Linked DNA regions of Homo sapiens: regions 1 and 3 are each linked to region 2. Evidence: fine-mapped expression QTL. A gene starts in region 2. Each other region holds a variant in brackets. All regions are shown on one strand. Distances are between the middles of the regions. Region 1 overlaps LOC105372379 (a long non-coding RNA gene). Region 2 holds the start of FXYD5 (FXYD domain containing ion transport regulator 5). Region 3 has its middle 23 kb from the start of FXYD5.

Evidence for each region.
Region 1: its variant is fine-mapped to the expression of FXYD5 in platelets (CEDAR, PIP 0.95).
Region 3: its variant is fine-mapped to the expression of FXYD5 in B cells (Schmiedel 2018, PIP 0.95).

What each region holds. Positions count from the first base shown.
Region 1 is chr19:35,207,191-35,212,847 of GRCh38, reverse strand. The region is part of intron 2 of LOC105372379 (a long non-coding RNA gene); the gene reads right to left. Among named protein-coding and RNA genes, the nearest start is that of FAM187B, 19 kb to the left of the region's middle. RefSeq lists an enhancer at 360-1,171. The variant C/TC (reference allele first, on the strand shown) is at 2,891.
Region 2 is chr19:35,151,782-35,157,438 of GRCh38, reverse strand. It overlaps FXYD5 (FXYD domain containing ion transport regulator 5), which reads right to left and starts at 2,704. Exons shown (of 9, transcript NM_014164.6): 1 at 2,630-2,704; 2 at 1,828-1,888; 3 at 1-18. The coding sequence starts at 1,888. FXYD7 (FXYD domain containing ion transport regulator 7) reads right to left here. Exons shown (of 6, transcript NM_022006.2): 6 at 3,137-3,545. The coding sequence ends at 3,523. RefSeq lists enhancers at 1,764-1,933, 2,872-3,736, 4,686-5,237.
Region 3 is chr19:35,175,087-35,180,743 of GRCh38, reverse strand. No RefSeq gene overlaps it. Among named protein-coding and RNA genes, the nearest start is that of FXYD5, 23 kb to the right of the region's middle. RefSeq lists a silencer at 4,737-4,893. The variant C/T (reference allele first, on the strand shown) is at 2,576.

The DNA of each region.
Region 1 (5,657 bases), 55 kb before region 2:
GCCCGGCCTAGTTTTTGTATTTTTAGTAGAGATGGGGTTTTGCCATGTTGGCCAGGCTGGTCTTGAACTCCTGACCTCAAGTGATATGCCCACCTCAGTCTTCCCAAGTACTGAGATTACAGGTGTGAGCCCCCAGGCCCGGCCTAAAATGCTTTATTTCTTGTCTCTCCTTTCTTCATTCCTTTCCCCCTTCCTTTCCTCTTTTTCCTTTATTTCTTCATCTCTTTTATTCAAGGCAATAAACATGATATTAGCAATTGCTGATGTTAGAATGGGCTCACAAGTATCCCAAGTCTTCCTCGCCCAGCCTCTGTTGATTCTCAAGTACATACCACGATTCCCCCCATTTCACGGACATGGTGGGAATGCCAGGGCGGCTCCTCCCAGCTGAGTCCCCAGTGCATTTGGTTTGCTCCTGTCACTGACACCCGTGGTGTTGTGGCCACTGAGGCTGAAATCCAAAAGAGGGCACCAGAAATGCATCGAGAAAGTGCCCACCCTTGAGGAAATCTGATGTTCGATTTGTCCTTACTCTGCAGTGATCTTTTTTGGTGGGAGGTTCCTGGAGGTGTCCCCATTGCCTTTCATGGGGTCTCCTCTCTGTGCCTAAGTTTCCCCCTATGTAAAATGGGGTTAGCACTGGTACCTACCTCATTCTTATTGTTGGGAGGATTAAACTGTAAGGAGTGCTTAGAACAGTGCTTTGGCAGCATGTGCGTCACAAATGTTTCCTGTTGTTGGTGGCGCTGTTGTTATTAGACCCTGGCTTTGGAAGCTGGGTCAGACACCTAGCAAAACCCTCTGCCTGGGTGTGCCCACGGGGACTGTTCTGGGCCGCAAGCTTCCAAGCTGAAGCCTGCCCTGCAGGCAGGATGTCCGGCCTCCAACCGCAGCCTCCAAATCTTGATCAACAACTCTGATTTTATTGCCTCTCTGCCCAGATATCATCAGTGGGGGCATGGACGCTTACATGAATGCTTGGGGTCTCATAAGGGGCACTCTGCAGATTCCAAGATTCACAGCTTCTGGCCTCATGTCCTGACTGCCCCCCACTCCCAGCCCCTGGTATGCTGGTGTTGCCACAGTGTCCAGCCACCTATCTCTCCTCCACCACCTCTTCCTTCCTCCAGAGGCAAGCAGTAGTCACATTTCTGTTGTCATGTGTCTCTCACAATTTCCACATTTTTTTTTTTTTTTCAGAGACAGGGTCTTGTTCTGTTGCCCAGGCTGGAGTGCAGTTGTGCAATCATAGCTCACTGAAGCCTTGAACTCCTGGGCTCAAACAATCCTCCCACCTCAGCCTCCTGAGTAGCTAGGACTACAGGCATGCACCACCATGCCCTGCTAATTTTTAATTTTATTTATTTATTTATTTTTTCATTGAGACAGAGTTTCGCTCTTGTCGTCCAGGCTGGAGTGCACTGGCGCGATCTCGGCTCACTGCAATCTCTGTCTCCCATGGTTCAAGCGATTCTCCTGTCTCAGCTTCCTGAGTAACTGGGATTACAGGTACCTGCCACCATGCCTGGTTAATTTTTGTATTTTTAATAAAGACAGGATTTCACCACGTTGTCCAGGCTGGTCTCGAACTCCTGACCTCAGGTGATCCACCTGCCTCAGCCTCCCAAAGTGCTGGGATTACAGGCATGAGCCACCGTGCCCACCTAATTTTTAATTTTTTTTTTTTTGTAGAGACAGGGTCTCACTATGTGGCCCAGGCTGGTCTCAAACTCCTAACCTCAAGTGATCCTCCCACGTTGGCCTCCCACATGGTGGGATTACAGGCGTGGGCCACCACGCCCAGCTGCCTCTGCATGTCTTAAGGAGATGTTTATGCCACTGATTTGTGATTGTCAACGTTACCACAGAGCCCTTCTCTGTTGACTTCCTGCCCTGGAAGGGGAGGAGTGGATTCAGACCACTCCCCTTCTGATGTAATGATGCCACGCAACCTCCCTGGTCTCAGGGTCCACATCTGTGAATGAGAATAACAGTATCTATCTCAGAAGGTTGTAGTGAGGAGTGAACAAATTCATTCACACGAAGCACTGAGAACGGGCTTTGCCCACAGTACAGGCAGTGTGTGAACTCTCACTGTTGTTCATAACTATGATCATCATCACTTTTATTTTATTTTATTTTATTTTATTTTATTTTTTGACACGGAGTCTCACTCTGTCACCCGGGCTGGAGTGCAGTGATATGATCTCAGATCACTGCAACCTCTGCCTCCCGGGTTCAAGTGATTCTCCTGAGTAGCTGGGATTACAAGCATGCGCTGTCACGCCTGGCTAATTTTTGTATTTTTGGTAGAGATGGTGTTTCACCATGTTGGCCAGGCTGGTCTCAAACTCCTGACCTCAGGTGATCGATCCACCTGCCTCAGCTTCCCAAAGTGCTGGGATTACAGGCGTGAGCCACCGCACCTGGCCCCATCATCTAGATTCTACAATTGTTAACATTTTTCTGTATTTACTTTATTACATATCTATCAGTCCATTCCTCTATCAAGTCATCTGATTTTTTAAAAATGTATTTTTAAAGAAGGTTAAAGAATTTTAAAGCAGACATCAGTACTCTTTACCCTTAAACATTTCAGGATTCATATCACCAACTGGAGTTCAATGTTTGCAGTTATCTTTGAGATTTTATAAATTTGCATGCAATGAAATGCACACATATGAAACATCCATTTGCTGAATTTCTTAGTATTGTCATTATTATTTAGAGATGCGCTCCCACTCTGTACCCCAGACTGGAGTGCAGTGGTGTGATCATAGTTTACTGCAGCCTTGACCTCCTGGGCTCAAGCGATCCTTCTGCCTCAGCCTTGAAAGTAACTGGTACTACAGAAATATGCCACCACGCCTGGCTAATTTTTTTTTTTTTT[C/TC]TCCACAGGGTGAGTTCTATGCCTGGGGAATTAAAACAATTTTTTTTTTAAAAGAGATAAGGTCTTTCTGTGTTGCACAGACTGGTCTTGACCTCCTGGCCTCAAGTGATCCCCATGCATCAGCCTCCTCAGTAGCTGAGATTACAGGCATGAGCCACTGTTCCCATCTCCATTTGCTGAGTTTTGACCAATGAATGCACTTATGTAATAAGTATACGCTTCTGCTTTAGACTACAAGCCCCTGTTAAGATAAAGAACATCTCCGTGACCCCTGCAAAATCCCCTTATGCCCCTTCCCAGATAATCCCCACCTCCACTCCATCCCCAAAGGCAATCATGGTTTTGATATTTTTATACCTTTACTTTAAATTTTCAGGATGGATGACAGGTGTGTGCTGGGAGGGACCTTAGTTAAATTTTGTGATTGGCGGCTAGAATTGAAAAAAAACAAAAACAAAAACAAAAAAACAAAAAAATACCTCATTGCGGCCAGGCGTGGTGGCTCATGCCTGTAATCCCAGCACTTTGGGAGGCCAAGGTGGGCGGATAGCTTGAGGTCAGGAGTTTGAGACCAGCCTGGCCAACATAGTGAAACCCCATCTCTACTAAAAATACAAAACTTAGCCCAATGTGGTAGTGGGCACCTGTAATCTTAACTACCTGGGAGGCTGAGGCAGGAGAATTGCTGGAACCAGGAGGTTGTAGTGAGCTGAGATGGCACCACTTTACTCCAGCCTGGGCAACAGAGCAAGACTCCATCTTAAAAAAAAAAAAGAAAACCTCGTTGCTCCCTCCTGTGGAATATGGATACCTAATTAACATGATCACATACAGCAATGACTGGCTTGGAGGGGAGGAGGCATCCTCAGTGCTGAAAGGTGGGACAATGTCCACTGAGGGCTCTGGTCCTAGCACTGAATGAGCCAGGCTCTTTCAATTCCTGGATAAGCACTTGTTCACCCATTGTATGTGGACCACTTACCCTGGCTGCCTCATGTAGGATGCTGTTGGCTGCAAGTAAGAGAAGAATAAATTCCAAACATCTTAAAACAATAAGGATGCCAGGCACAGTGGCTCGTGCCTGTAATCCCAGCACTTTGGGAGGCCGAGGCAGGCAGATCGCGAGGTCAGGAGATTGAGATCATCCTGGCTAACACGGTGAAACCCCGTCTCTACTAAAAATCCAAAAAAATAACTAGGCATGGTGGCGGTCGCCTGTAGTCCCAGCTACTCGGGAGGCTGAGGCAGGAGAATGGCGTGAACTCAGGAGATTGAGATCATCCTGGCTAACACGGTGAAACCCCGTCTCTACTAAAAATCCAAAAAAATAACTAGGCATGGTGGCGGTCGCCTGTAGTCCCAGCTACTCGGGAGGCTGAGGCAGGAGAATGGCGTGAACTCAGGAGGTGGATCTTGCAGTGAGCCGAGATCGCGCCACTGCACTCCCGCCTGGGGGACAGAGCCAGACTCCATCTCAAAAAAAAAAAGCAATAAGGACACGTATTATTTTACAGAACTGCTGGTCCCCCAAAGGCGGGGAGGTTCTCCAGGGGTCAATGCATCAGTTGAATGATGTTCTTATAGACTCAGGCTCCTCAGCATGTGGGCAATGTCATCCCTCACGGTGGTAACGTGGCTGCCACAGCCCCAGCCATCATTTCCTATAGGTGCAAAGCATCACAACCGTATACTTCCTCTTGCTAAAATCCTACTCTACCCATTTCCTTTCTGTATTTTCAGTGTTTAGCCTCTCTGATTCTGCTCTTACTACTAACTCATGAGATTTCAACTCATGGCGACTATAGGTGCTCCGAAGTGCTAATGAAAGAAATTGCAGAAAGAAAAGAAGAAAAATGATGTCTTTCTCTGTGGCTTCAGAATCATCCTCAGCATCATAAAACTCTGTTTGCAAATATTCTTTGCAGGCCGCAGGGACTTCAGAGATCATCAGTATGTCTTGTCAAAGAAACTTTAACATTCCAGCATCTGTGATTCTGGGACTAATACTTAAATTGCATGTAGATTCTGAAAAGGATAAATATTTGTGAATTTTTTGTTAAACCAGAGGAATATTTTTACTACCCCCTCTTCTTCAACGTGGATGAAAGAGAAAGCAAAAACACGTGATGCTGTTAGAACTCTGCTCTAGACTAAGAGTTTGAGAGCCCAGCTTAAGCCAGCAAATGCCTCCTCACACTGCCACATTCTCTCTGCGAGGAAAAGAAAAAGTTTATTTCTCTTACATTATTATTTTTTTCTTTTTTTGAGATAGGATCTCGCTGTGTCACACAGGCTGGAGTGCAGTGGTGTGATTATGACTCACTGCAGCCTTGATCTCCCAGGTTCAGGTGATTCTCCCTCCTCAGCTTCCTTAGTAGCCAGGAATACAGGCACACACCGCCACGCCTGGCAAATTTTGTGTATCTTTTTAAAATTTTTTTGGAGATGGGGTCTTGCTATGTTGCTCAGGCTGGTCTCGAACTCCTGGGCTCAAGCGATCCTCCTGCCTTGGCCTCCCAAAATGCTGGGATTACAGGTGTGAGCCACCACACCTGGCCTCCTACAGTACTTTTCTTTTTCTTTTGAGATGAAGTCTCACTCTGTCACCCAGGCTGGAGTGTAGTGGTGCAATGTCCACTCACTGCAACCTCCGCCTCCCAGGTTCAAGTGATTCTCCTGCCTCAGCTTCCTGAGTAGCTGGGACTACAGGTGCACACCACCATGCCCAGCTAATTTTTGTATTTTTAAAAATAGAAATGGGGTTTCA
Region 2 (5,657 bases):
TATCTTTCAACGTCTGTCCTGGGGAATCAAGGATGAGAAGTCAGGAGGGAGCCTGGTCCCCCTCCTCTCACCACCCCCGCCCTCGCCTCCCTGGTGAAACCTTAGGGGTCCTGTCTGCTGGTGGAATCACTCAGCTTTGGCTGCATCAATCCATAATTCTGAAAGTGTTTTCAGCTATGCCAATGCCTGGGAACCCTTCTTCTAGTCCCCCTCCCCGCCCATCCCTGTGGGATGGGAAAGTCAGTTTAGTCTAGTGAGCCCAGGTGCTAGGGTGAGCCTGGGCCCTGGTTTCAAATCCTGCCCCCAACAACTTTCTTGCTGTGTGACCTGGAACAAGTGAAGTCCTTTCTCTGAGCCTCAGTTGCTTCATCTGCAAAGCAGGGATAATAACTGAATCTACTTCACAGGGCTGTAGATAGGGTGAAATGACACAGAGCAGGGAAAGGGTCTCCCACACGGCTTACCATGTGGTCAGTGCTGGATAACTCCACTGCCCCCATCCTGGTCCTGCCTCTGTACCCTCCAGCCTGGACATCCCAGCAGCCTCCTTCTTGGGCTCCCTGCTCCTGTCTCCGCCCCCACAGTCTGTTCCAACCTGCAGCCAGAGGGAGCCTGGGACCACCTGAGTCAGGTCGGGGCCCGCCTGGTTCAGAGCCCTGCCCTGGCTGCACTTCACTCCACATAAAAGCAAAGCCCTCACGTGGCCCGTAAGTCCTCCTCCATCTGGTCCCATCACTTCTCTGTCCTCTCGTCATCCCACTCTGCCCCTTCTCATCCCAACCCAGCCACCCCACCTGCCTGCTATTCTTAAAACACACCAGACAACACTCAGCCCCCAGACACCTGCAAAGCTCATTCCCTCATTTCCTCCAAGTGTTTGTTGGTCCAAATGTCACCTCCTCAGTGAGGCCCTCCCTGACCACCCAGTTTAAACAATCCTCATTACCTCTACTTTTCTGCAAGCACGTATCACCTCCTAGCACACGATATAATTTACTAACTTGTCTCTCTCCACTAGAGTGTGACCTCTTGTTTTATTCAGTGCTGTTTCCCCAGTGCACAGAATATCTAGCACATAGTAGGTGCTCAATAAATATTTGTCAAATGACTGAACGAGTATATGAAAATCATTTTATGAAGGAGAAATGAGGGCGCCTTCAGTGGGGCATGCACCCTGGGTTCTGGGGGCAGGCAGGACAGTTGTTTTCTCAGCTCCTCCACCCATTCTCCTCTGACACAGGGCACTTCCCTTCGCTGAGCCTCAGTTTCCTCATCAGTAAAATGGGCAAGACAACAGGTGTGACTGACTGTCAGAGGCAAAGCCTAACTGACCTAACACACACCACACCTGCCACACAGAAAGAACGATCAATACCCCCCTGTGGTTCCCATCTTTCAGGAGACACTTTCCAGGCAAGGCTGAGATGTTGCCAACTCTTTGGACTAACCCCAGCTCAACAGCTTTGCCTAACTGTGTAATGCCTGGGGACTCTGGGAGCCTAGGTTTCCTGGCTGCTGAGTAGAAAACCGACACCAATCTCCCCGCCAAATGAAACTCAGTGAGTTCTTCTTGGAGGTGAAATTGGAGGATGCTCAGCAGGACAGGCCCTGGCCAGACTCACTGGAAGCAGCCACCCGGGTCTGAGGTGTCCAAAGAGGGTGTAACGTCGCCCCGCCATAGGGATCCCCACTTCCTGGTGCCGGCTCAGCGGGAGGGTGACAGGGCAGGACAACGTTCACACGGGCCAACCACCCACCCCGCAGCACACGTGGGGCTGGCCTGGCTGGGGGCTCTGGGGCAGGGTGGAGGCCAGAGATGGGTCTTACCTCTGGTGGGGAGAATCAGGCCAACGATGGTGAGAAGACACAGGCGACCAGAGGGCGACATCTGTGGGACCAGGCGATGCTGGGGTCAGCCATGATGTCAGTGAGACCGACCTCCGGCAGCCCCCGGGGATCCTGCAGCCCTTTCCCTGCCCTGAGCAAAAACCTCTGGCTTCCAAGACCCCCTGCCAGGGGCTGACGGCTGGCCTCAGGGGAAAGGGGAGGGTCTTAGGTGGGGATACCAAACCGTCACCCTGCTTCCTTCCCCTGCAGGTCCCCAAAGAAAACAAGAAGCATGAGATAAATGGGTCTTCCAGCAGCTGCAAGGGCCGGCGGGCACTCCTGAAGCAGAGAAACACCTCCCTGCGCCTTCCGCCAGGCGCTTATCCCTCACTGGGACTGACGCAAGGAGGGGACTGGGGCAGAGGAGTAGATAGGAGGCCTCTTCCCTCCCCCAGGGGCCCAGAGCCCGGGAGTCGGCGAGGAGGGGAAGGAGGAAGAGTGAGTAACGCCTCCCGCGCTCAGAGGAAAAAGTGAGTTGGTGTCAGGGGCCGCCTTGCAGGGATGGCGCGCTGGAGAGACCTAAGAGGCACTGGTCCGAGGGGGGTGGCAGAGAGCTGGGGAGACTGAGGCAGGCGGGCGGGAGCGAGGCAGAGCGGCCCACTGTAGCCCAGGAGAGGAGGCAGAGAGATGTGGGCGTGGATGGGGGGCGGAGAGGAGCGGAAGGGGTCAAACCCCTACCCACCTGAGCCCGGCCCGTGGGCAGAGGGGCAGCGGATGGAGGTGGCGCACGAGAGGGACTTACGTCGGAGCTGGGGGTCCTAAGCCGGCAGCCTCGTGGAGAGAGGGACGCGGCGGTGGCTGCTGCGTCCAGGCGGAGGGTGTGGCCAGGGGAGCGCGAGCGGGCGGGGACCCAGACGGGCTCAGTCATTTCCTCTTGGGTTTCCTGGCTTCAGAGCCCGGGGTGGGAGCAGGAGGGGGAATCGCTGAGGGCGACGGGGGGCAGGGGTGAGGGCATAGTGGTGGGAGAGGGTGGGAACGGGGATGGGGCAGGCAGGTCTAGGGTGAGTGGACGCCTCTGAGAGAGCAGGGGGAGAAACGGGAGGGCTCTATTCTGGGGTCGCTGGAGGAAGGGAAAGGACAAATCCGGAGGTGTTGAGGAAGGAGAAGGGATTGAAGGGGGGCATCTCGGGGCACTGGGGGAGGAGAATGAAGAGGGGGCGACTCCGGGCACGCAGGGGAGAGCTACCCCAGGTTCAGTTCTGCACCCCTACCCACACCGTGCCCCACAGATGAGAACACACAGACAGAACAGAGGAAAAAACCAAATGCACATTTATTAAGCTCAAGACATGGACACTGAGGGGCCAGGGGGACGGATCTTCGGGGATGAGACAAGGAGGTGCAGGGGGGCCATACACGGGGATGCTGGGGGTGCTGGGCCGGGATGGACTCCCGGATCCCAGGAGCTGGAGGCCTGAGGCCCTGGGTCTGGGGTGCAGACGGGCTCTTTGGGGGATCGTCATTGCCAAGGCCTGGAGAGGGACAGCAGGGTGCAGCGGCTCCAGCCTTGGGGTGGGTGGGGCGGCTCATTCCGGGGAGCGCTCCCGGCGCGCGGCTGGGTCCCCACCGCCTCCACCCGGTCCTCAGGCTCCCGCGCTCAGGCAGGGTCGGCAGCGGAGTTTCCTCGGGAAGGTGTTACACGCCGCCGCCACCAGGGGCTGGGGAGAGAGGGGGTGCGTGAGCCACTAGAAAGGTGGAAACTGCCTCCCTCCCCACAGCTCGTTGGCTCTCCATTCCCCGGCACCATGGAAGCCAGACCCCAGGGACTGTCACCCCAGAGCTAACACTGAGGAGCTGTCTTGCCTCCCACACTCTAATGTCTTGTTCCCTTGGGGACACCTCCTGGCTGCTGTCATGGAGAGAAACACCTGCTACGGGGCTGGCGACCCCAGACCCAACCTGGGCTTTTGGGGCTATCCGCCTGCCAGAAAGGGAGTCCCCATCTCCCTTCCCATTTGCAATCTCCTCCTACACCCTCACTCCTTTCCTACACTCCCTGTCCTGAACATTTGGATACAACGGGAAGTCCCCCATTCCCCACCCGCTGCAGACCATCATTCACCTAGGATAGACCAGAAACCTGTGCAAAGTCTTCAGCTGTGCCCCAGGTGACAAGGCCAACCCCCATGCTGCCCCACGCATCCATAAGTGCCTTGTTCATGTTTTAAAACTCATTAAATAAACATGAAACAGGCCAAGCGCTGTGGCTCACGCCTGTAATCCAAGCACTTTGGGAGGCCGAGGATGGCGGATCGTTTGAGGTCAGGAGTTTGAGACCAGCCTGGCCAAAATGGTGAACCACCATCTCTGCTAAAGATATAAAAATTAGCCGGGTGTGGTGGTGTGTGCCTGTAGTCCCAGCTATTTGGGAGGCTGAGGCAGGAGAATCGCTTGAACCCAGGACGCAGAGGTTGCAGTGTTGTAATAAGCTGAGATCGTGCCACTGCACTCCAGCCTGGGCAACAGAGGACACAGCAAGACTCTGTCTCAAAAAAAAAAAAAAAAAAAAAAAAAAAAAGGAACGTGAAACAAATTCCACACCAAATACTTCTCAACCATTGAATAACCCGTGTCCCCCTCCCGCATTTTTTTTTTTTTTTTTTTTTTTTTTAGTTATAAGAACTTTATAAGAGACACAGAAATTCCCATTTCTGTTCTTTTACAAGTCTCCAGAAAGGCTGCATTTCCACTAAAAACAGGTCAAGTTATTTTTACATAATTAAAATTAACAGCCTCAAAGAGATCAGTCTTTCGTTGACATGCTTGCCCTGCATCCCTCTCGCTCTCCCTTTACACTTTCCATGCTTACACCCATTCTCCCTCCTCCACCCTCCACGCCCTCCTCCTCCCATCCTCCTCCCCTTCCTTCCTGGGCTCCTCCTTCCCACATTCTCCCCAACACCTCCGTCCTCTCCACTCTCTCCCCTCCTGTTCTTCCCAGCTTTCTTCTCCATCCTCACATTCCCTGCATCCCATATGTTCTTTTCCAATGTGAATTCTAAAATCTGCATTCTATTCATCTCTCTTTTTGTTATTTTGATGCAACTATTCAGAAACCTTCCCTCCCTCCCTCTGTCCCGCTTCCTCGGCTATTTCATCCTGGATCTGCCTGGCTGAACGATCAAGTCTGGAAAGCCTCTCCCCGTCTTCCTCAGTGCTCCCTCTCTCTCCCTCCTGATTGACAGAGCTCCTCCCACATGGGGCCCTTCTCTTCACAGGCCTGTGTCTTCCTCTCCTGGCAAATCAGCTTGTCCTGGCTTTTATAGGCTTGAGCATTTGTTTCTGGGAATCTCTGTGGACTCTGGGACATGTCACATCCCACAGCCTCCCCACGGTTTAGCATCATCTTTCTTTTCCCTCCCTCCCTCCCTTCCTTCCTTCATTTCTTCCTTCCTCTTTTTTTTTTTTTTTTTTTTTGACAGTCTCACTCTATCACCCAGGCTGGAGTGGAGTGGCACAACCTCAGCTCATTGCAACCTCCACCTCCCAGGTTCAGGTGATTCTCTTGCCTCAGCCTCCTGAGTAGCTGGGATTACAGGTGCGCACCACCATGCCCGGCTAATTTTTGCATTTTTAGCAGAGACGGTGTTTCACCATGTTGGCCGGGCTGATCTCGATCTCCTGACCTCAGGTGATCTGCCTGCCTCAGCCTCCCAAAGTGTTGGAATTACAGGCATGAGCCACCGCGCCCAGCCAGGTTTAGCATCTTTCATCTGCGGAATTTCCTCAGCTTCCTAGGGAATTGTCCTGTGATATCTGCAGGCACCACC
Region 3 (5,657 bases), 23 kb before region 2:
TACACTTCTTATTTTCACTAAACTGTTCTGTGGAAGCAAATACTCAGTCACCCAGAGCCTTTCCTTCTATAGAAACCTAATATAGGAAGCTACTGGTGATGGTCTGAGTGACTGCCTTGCCACTCCATGCTATGACCTATCAGTGTACCCTTCATTACTGAAAACAAGGTCATTAATGGCTTTCAATTTAATTAGAGAACCAATTCTAGAAAAACCAGATCTCGGCCGGGCGCGGTGGCTCACGCCTGTAATCCCAGCACTTTGGAAGGCCGAGGCAGGTGGATCACAAGGTCAAGAGATTGAGACCATCTTGGCTAATACGGTGAAACCCCGTCTCTACTAAAAGTACAATAAAATTAGCTGGGCGTTGTGGCAGGCGCCTGTAGTCCCAGCTGCTGGGGAGGCTGAGGCAGGAGAATGGCGTGAACCCGGGAGGCGGAACTTGCAGTAAACCAAGATCACGCCACCACACTCCAGCCTGGGTGACAGAGTGAGACTCCATCTCAAAAAAAAAAAAAAAAGAGAAAGAAAAACCAGATCTCATTGTTAAGATTCTGGCCTTCTGGAACCACTCTTAGTACCAAATTCTGTATCAGCAAAGCTGAACCTTTAATACATATGTGGGCGTACACACACACAGTTTGCTACACGAATTTGACCTTCAACAATTGTAGTTGCTAGTGAAGCTCTCTTTGTAGGGCTGTTGTCTTGATGCTGGAACTTGAAACCCACAGGTGCAGGAAGTCAGGAAGGGAAGATTGAGGTAAGATTGGGGAGAGCACGGAACAAGTTAGAACCCACAAGCACAAGCTGGAGTCCACAAGGATGGACTGAATCCTATGTTAATTCTTTTTCTTTTTCTTTTCTCTTCTTTTTTTTCTTTCTTTCTTTCTTTTTGTTTTTCTTTTTGAGACAGAGTTTCACTCGGTCGACCAGGCTGGAGTGCAGTGGTGTGATCTCTGCTCACTGCAACCTCTGCTTCCCAGGTTGAAGAGATTCTCTTGCCTCAGCCTCCCGAGTAGCTGGGATTGCAGGCATGCAACATCACGCCTGGGTAATTTTTGTATTTTTAGTAAAGATGGAGTTTCACCATGTTGACCAGGCTGGTCTCGAACTCCTGACCTCAAGTGATCCACCCGCCTCGGCCTCCCAGAGTGCTGGAATTACAGGCATGAGCCACTGCACCCAGCCCCATGCTAATTCTTGTTGTCTATGACCTTGGTGCTGTGGGTGTCTTGCTAGAGTCATGGTCCTTCATCACGGGGCTGAGCACACATGTCTGGCCCAACAACTGGGGAAGCTGAAGGAGGATCCAGCGGAAGGTGAAACAGTTGCAGCCCTGGTTGCTGCCTTATGCCAATGAGATGAGCTGTCTGATAAGTGACAACTGGTATAAGCTGCGAAATGTCCGTGGCTTCACCTCTACCCAGCAGATCCCTGACAAGAATGTCTCTTGTGGTTCACCCTAACCAGAAAACACAGGCATCTAGGGAAAAAGATTCTGGGAAGTGTAGTTTAACCTGGCCAAGGTGATACATTACAAAGCCACCTCAGGCGATGTTTCAAACCCTGTTTAACCTCCCACCATCAGCAGCTGGAGTCCTTGACTCAATAACTTCTTGAGAAGCCAACAGACTTTACCGAAGCAATCATTGGAGGTCATCCTCAACACCTCCAAGAAAAGCACAATCTAGTGTCAGATGAGAAAAGGCAGATTCCTTCCAGTTAATGTGATCTGGCCTCAATTTCAAAACAAGAACCTTGACAGAATTGTACTCAGGAGGCTAGCTGAATTACAACATCCACTCCATTAGCTCCTGGCAAGATATCTCCCCTGATGTAAGGGTGGAGGAGGAGGAGGCTTCACTTCAGACCATGATGCCACAGAAAAAGATGTCTTTTGCCAGAAAGGGATTGGGTAGCATTGGAGAGCATTGGAGGCGCTGTTGAAGTGATGTCTGGAAGTCTCTATCAAGTCTGAGAATCAGTGCTGCTGTCCTCTGGAAGTTTCAAAAACGACCAGTTTTTTTTTTTTTTTTGAGATGACGTCTCACTCTTGTCACCCAGGCTGGAGTGCAATGGTGCAATCTTGGCTCACTGCAACCTCCGCCTCCTAGGTTCAAGTGATTCTCTTGCCTCAGCCTCCCGAGTAGCTGGGATTACAGGCATGTGTCACATGCCTGGCTAATTTTTGTATTTTTAGTAGAGATGGGATTTCACCCTGTTGGCCAGGCTGGTTTCGAACTCCTGACCTCAGGTGATCCACCTGCCTTGGCCTCCCAAAGTGTTGAGATTACAGGTGTGAGCCACTGTGCCTGGCCAACCCCCAGTCTTAACAGTTATCTTTTCCTTTTACATTGGAGTAAAAATGACTTGAGGCTCCATCTCCTGACTTGGTGGCAGCTCCCCATCCTTCTCAGCATCCTAATCAACAAATTCCTGAGGGCAATTATTTTCCTTGATGGTATTTGGGGTGTCACGGACTCAGCTAAAAGACCACATTTCTGTGTCCTTTGCAATTAGAGGTAGCAATCCGAAGGAAGTAGAAATCTTTGGGAGGGAGTCTTGGGAAGTC[C/T]CTTTAAAAGGAGCTGAATCACCTAGTGGTGCCTTTCCTTTCTCACTTTTTTTTCCCCTTCTTGATTTTTTTCCTGGAATGTGGCATGATGGCTGAGGCTTCTGCAGCTATTTTGTGATCTTGAGGCTTCAGGCCACATGCTTAGGGTGGCAGAGCAGCAAGTCTGGTCCCTTATGATATTAGGGATCCTCTTTCCCAGCCTTGCACTATGTACTTCAGAGTTCTGCTATGTGAGAGAGGAATAAATAACCTGTTTAAGTCGTTGTTTCTGGCTGTCTCCTGAAGCTGAATACAGTTTCTGCCTCTAGAACTCTTGCTATGTGAGATAATAAATGTCCTTTGCAGTAAACAATATTACTGCCCATCAATACCCAGTTCCCTTCTGATGTGGTTTGGCTGTGCCCCCACCCAAATCTTATCTTGAATTTTCACATATTGTGGGAGGGGCCCAGTGGAAGGTGGTTGAATCATAAGGGCAGGTCTTTCTCTTGCTGGTCTTGTGATGGTGAATGAGTCTCATGAGGTCTGAGGGTTTTAAAAAGGGGAGTTTCCCTGCACAAGCTCTCTTCTCTTGTCTGCCACCATGTGAGACGTGCCTTTCACCTTCTGCCATGATTGAGGCCTCCCCAGCCACGTGGAACTGTAAATCCAATAAAGTTCTTTCTTTTGTAAGTTTCCCAATCTCAGATATGTCTTTATCAGCAGCATGAAAACGGATTAATATACCTTCCTATAAGAAGATTGTAATGTTCTGTGCTGTTGAACTCAAATGTGCCCGTGTGATTTGCTTTCGATAATGACAATGTGAGCAGAAATGAGGTGTGTCCCTTCCTGACAGAGGCTATAAGAGCCAGTGTGTGTCTCACCTTGTTCCTTGTTCTGCCTTCTGCCTGCTATGATAACCAGAAACATTTCTTTTCTTTTATTTTCTTTTCTTTTAGACAGGGTCTCACTCTGGAGTGCAGTGGCGTGATCTCAGCTCACTGCAACCTCCATCTCTTGGGCTCAAGCGATCCCCCCACCTCACCCCTCAAATAGCTGGGACCACAGGCGCAAGCCACCATGCCCAGCTTATTTTTATTTAGTTTTTGAGACGGAGTGTCACTCTGTCACTCTGTCACCCAGGCTGGAGTGCAGTGGCTTGATCTCGGCTCACTGCAACCTCCGCCTCTCAGGTTCAAGTGATTCTCCTGCCTCAGCCTCCTGAGTAGCTGGGATTACAGGCATGCACCGCCATGCCTGGCTAATCTTTCTATTTTTAGTAGAGATGGGGTTTTGACATGTTGGCCAGGCTGGTCTCAAACTCCTGACCTCAGGTAATCCGCCTGCCTCGGCCTCCCAAAGTGCTGGGATTACAGGTGTAAGCCACTGCACTTGGCCTAATTTTTGTATTTTTTGTAGAGACAAGGTTTCACCATATTGGCCAGGTTGGTCTCAAACTCCTGAGATCAAGCGATCTGCCTGCCTCGGCCTCCCAAAGTGCTGGGATTACAGGTGTGAGCCACTGCGCCCAGCCCAGGCTTCCCCATCATCTTGGGTCCCATCCTAGCTCCTAGCTGAACCGTGAGGGACATGTAGTGAGAGCGAGAAACAAACCTTTGTTGTAAGCCACGAGATTTTGAGATTATTTGTGACTGTCAATTTTAAGCAAAATTGGTCTGGCTTGGCATAAGGAATTAGAGGTTGACAAGCTCTTTGGAAAGGCTGGTGGAGTGCGCTCTAAGTGAAGACTGCAAATGATTCCACAACATGAGCAGACTGACTTGCCCAAGGAGCTTCTCCCTCCACCCTAATCAGGAGCCCCCATTGTACACGTCAGCTTCAGCATCTGGCTGCTCTGTCTGAGATCCAGGGATCAGAAAATCATCACCACCCAGGACAGAACTGCCTATTTGTTTTCAATGTTCTTGTTTTGTATTGAGTTATAATTTACTGTGTTAGTTCATTTTGCATTGCCATAAAAGAATACTTGAGACAGTAATTTATAAGGAAAAGAGAATTCTTTGGCTCATGGTTCTTCAGGCTGTACAAGCACAGCACCAGCATCTGCTTGGCTTTTGGTGAAGAGACCTCAGGAATCTTTTACTCATAGCAGGAAGTGAAGGGATAGCAGGCGTGTCCCATGGCAAGAGCAGGAGTAAGACAGAGAGAGGGGGAGGTGCCAGGCTCTTTAAGCAACCAGCTGTCACGTGAGCTAAGAGGGCAAGAACTCACGCATGACCATGGGGAGGACACCAAGCCATTCATGAGGGATCAACCCCCATGACCCAATCACCTCCCACCAGGCCCCCCTCCATCATCGGGGATCACATTTCAACATGAGATTTGGAGGGGTCACACATCCAAATATCACTTACACATAGTAAAGTGTACAAATCTTTTTTTTTTTTTTCCTTTGAGACAGGGTCTTGCTCCATCACCCAGGCTGGAGTCCAGTGGCGCGATCTCGGCTCACTGCAACCTCCGCCTCCCACGTTCAGGCGACTCTCCTGCTTCAGCCTTCTGAGGAGCTGGGATTACAGGCATGCACCACCATGCCTGGCTAATTTTTGTATTTTTAGTAGAGACGGGGTTTCACCATGTTGGCCAGGCTGGTCTCGAACTCCAACCTCAAGTGATCCACCTGCCTTGGCCTCTCAAAGTGTTGTGATTACAGGCATGAGCCACGGCACCGAGCCCTCAAAACTTAAACGTACAATTTGATCATTCTGATCAATATATGGACATGTAATCTGCACCACTGTCATCAGGGCACAGAACATTTCAATCCTTCCAGAAAGTTCTTTCATGCCCCTTTGCAGTCTCTCCCCACCTCCTGCTGACATAGTAGAGGCCACTACTCTTCTGATTTTTATCACTGTTAATCAGTTTTGCATATTTCAGAACTTCATATAAATGGAATTACACAGTCTGTGCTCTTTCGTGTGTGGTTTCTTTCACTCAAGACAATGCTTTTGAGATTCATTCATGTGTTGTGTAGCTCAGTCTTTCTTCCTTCCACAGTTTGTAGTCCACTCACTTGTGCTGATGGACATTGGGGTTGTTTCTAGTCTTTTTACTATTACAGATATTGCTGTAAACA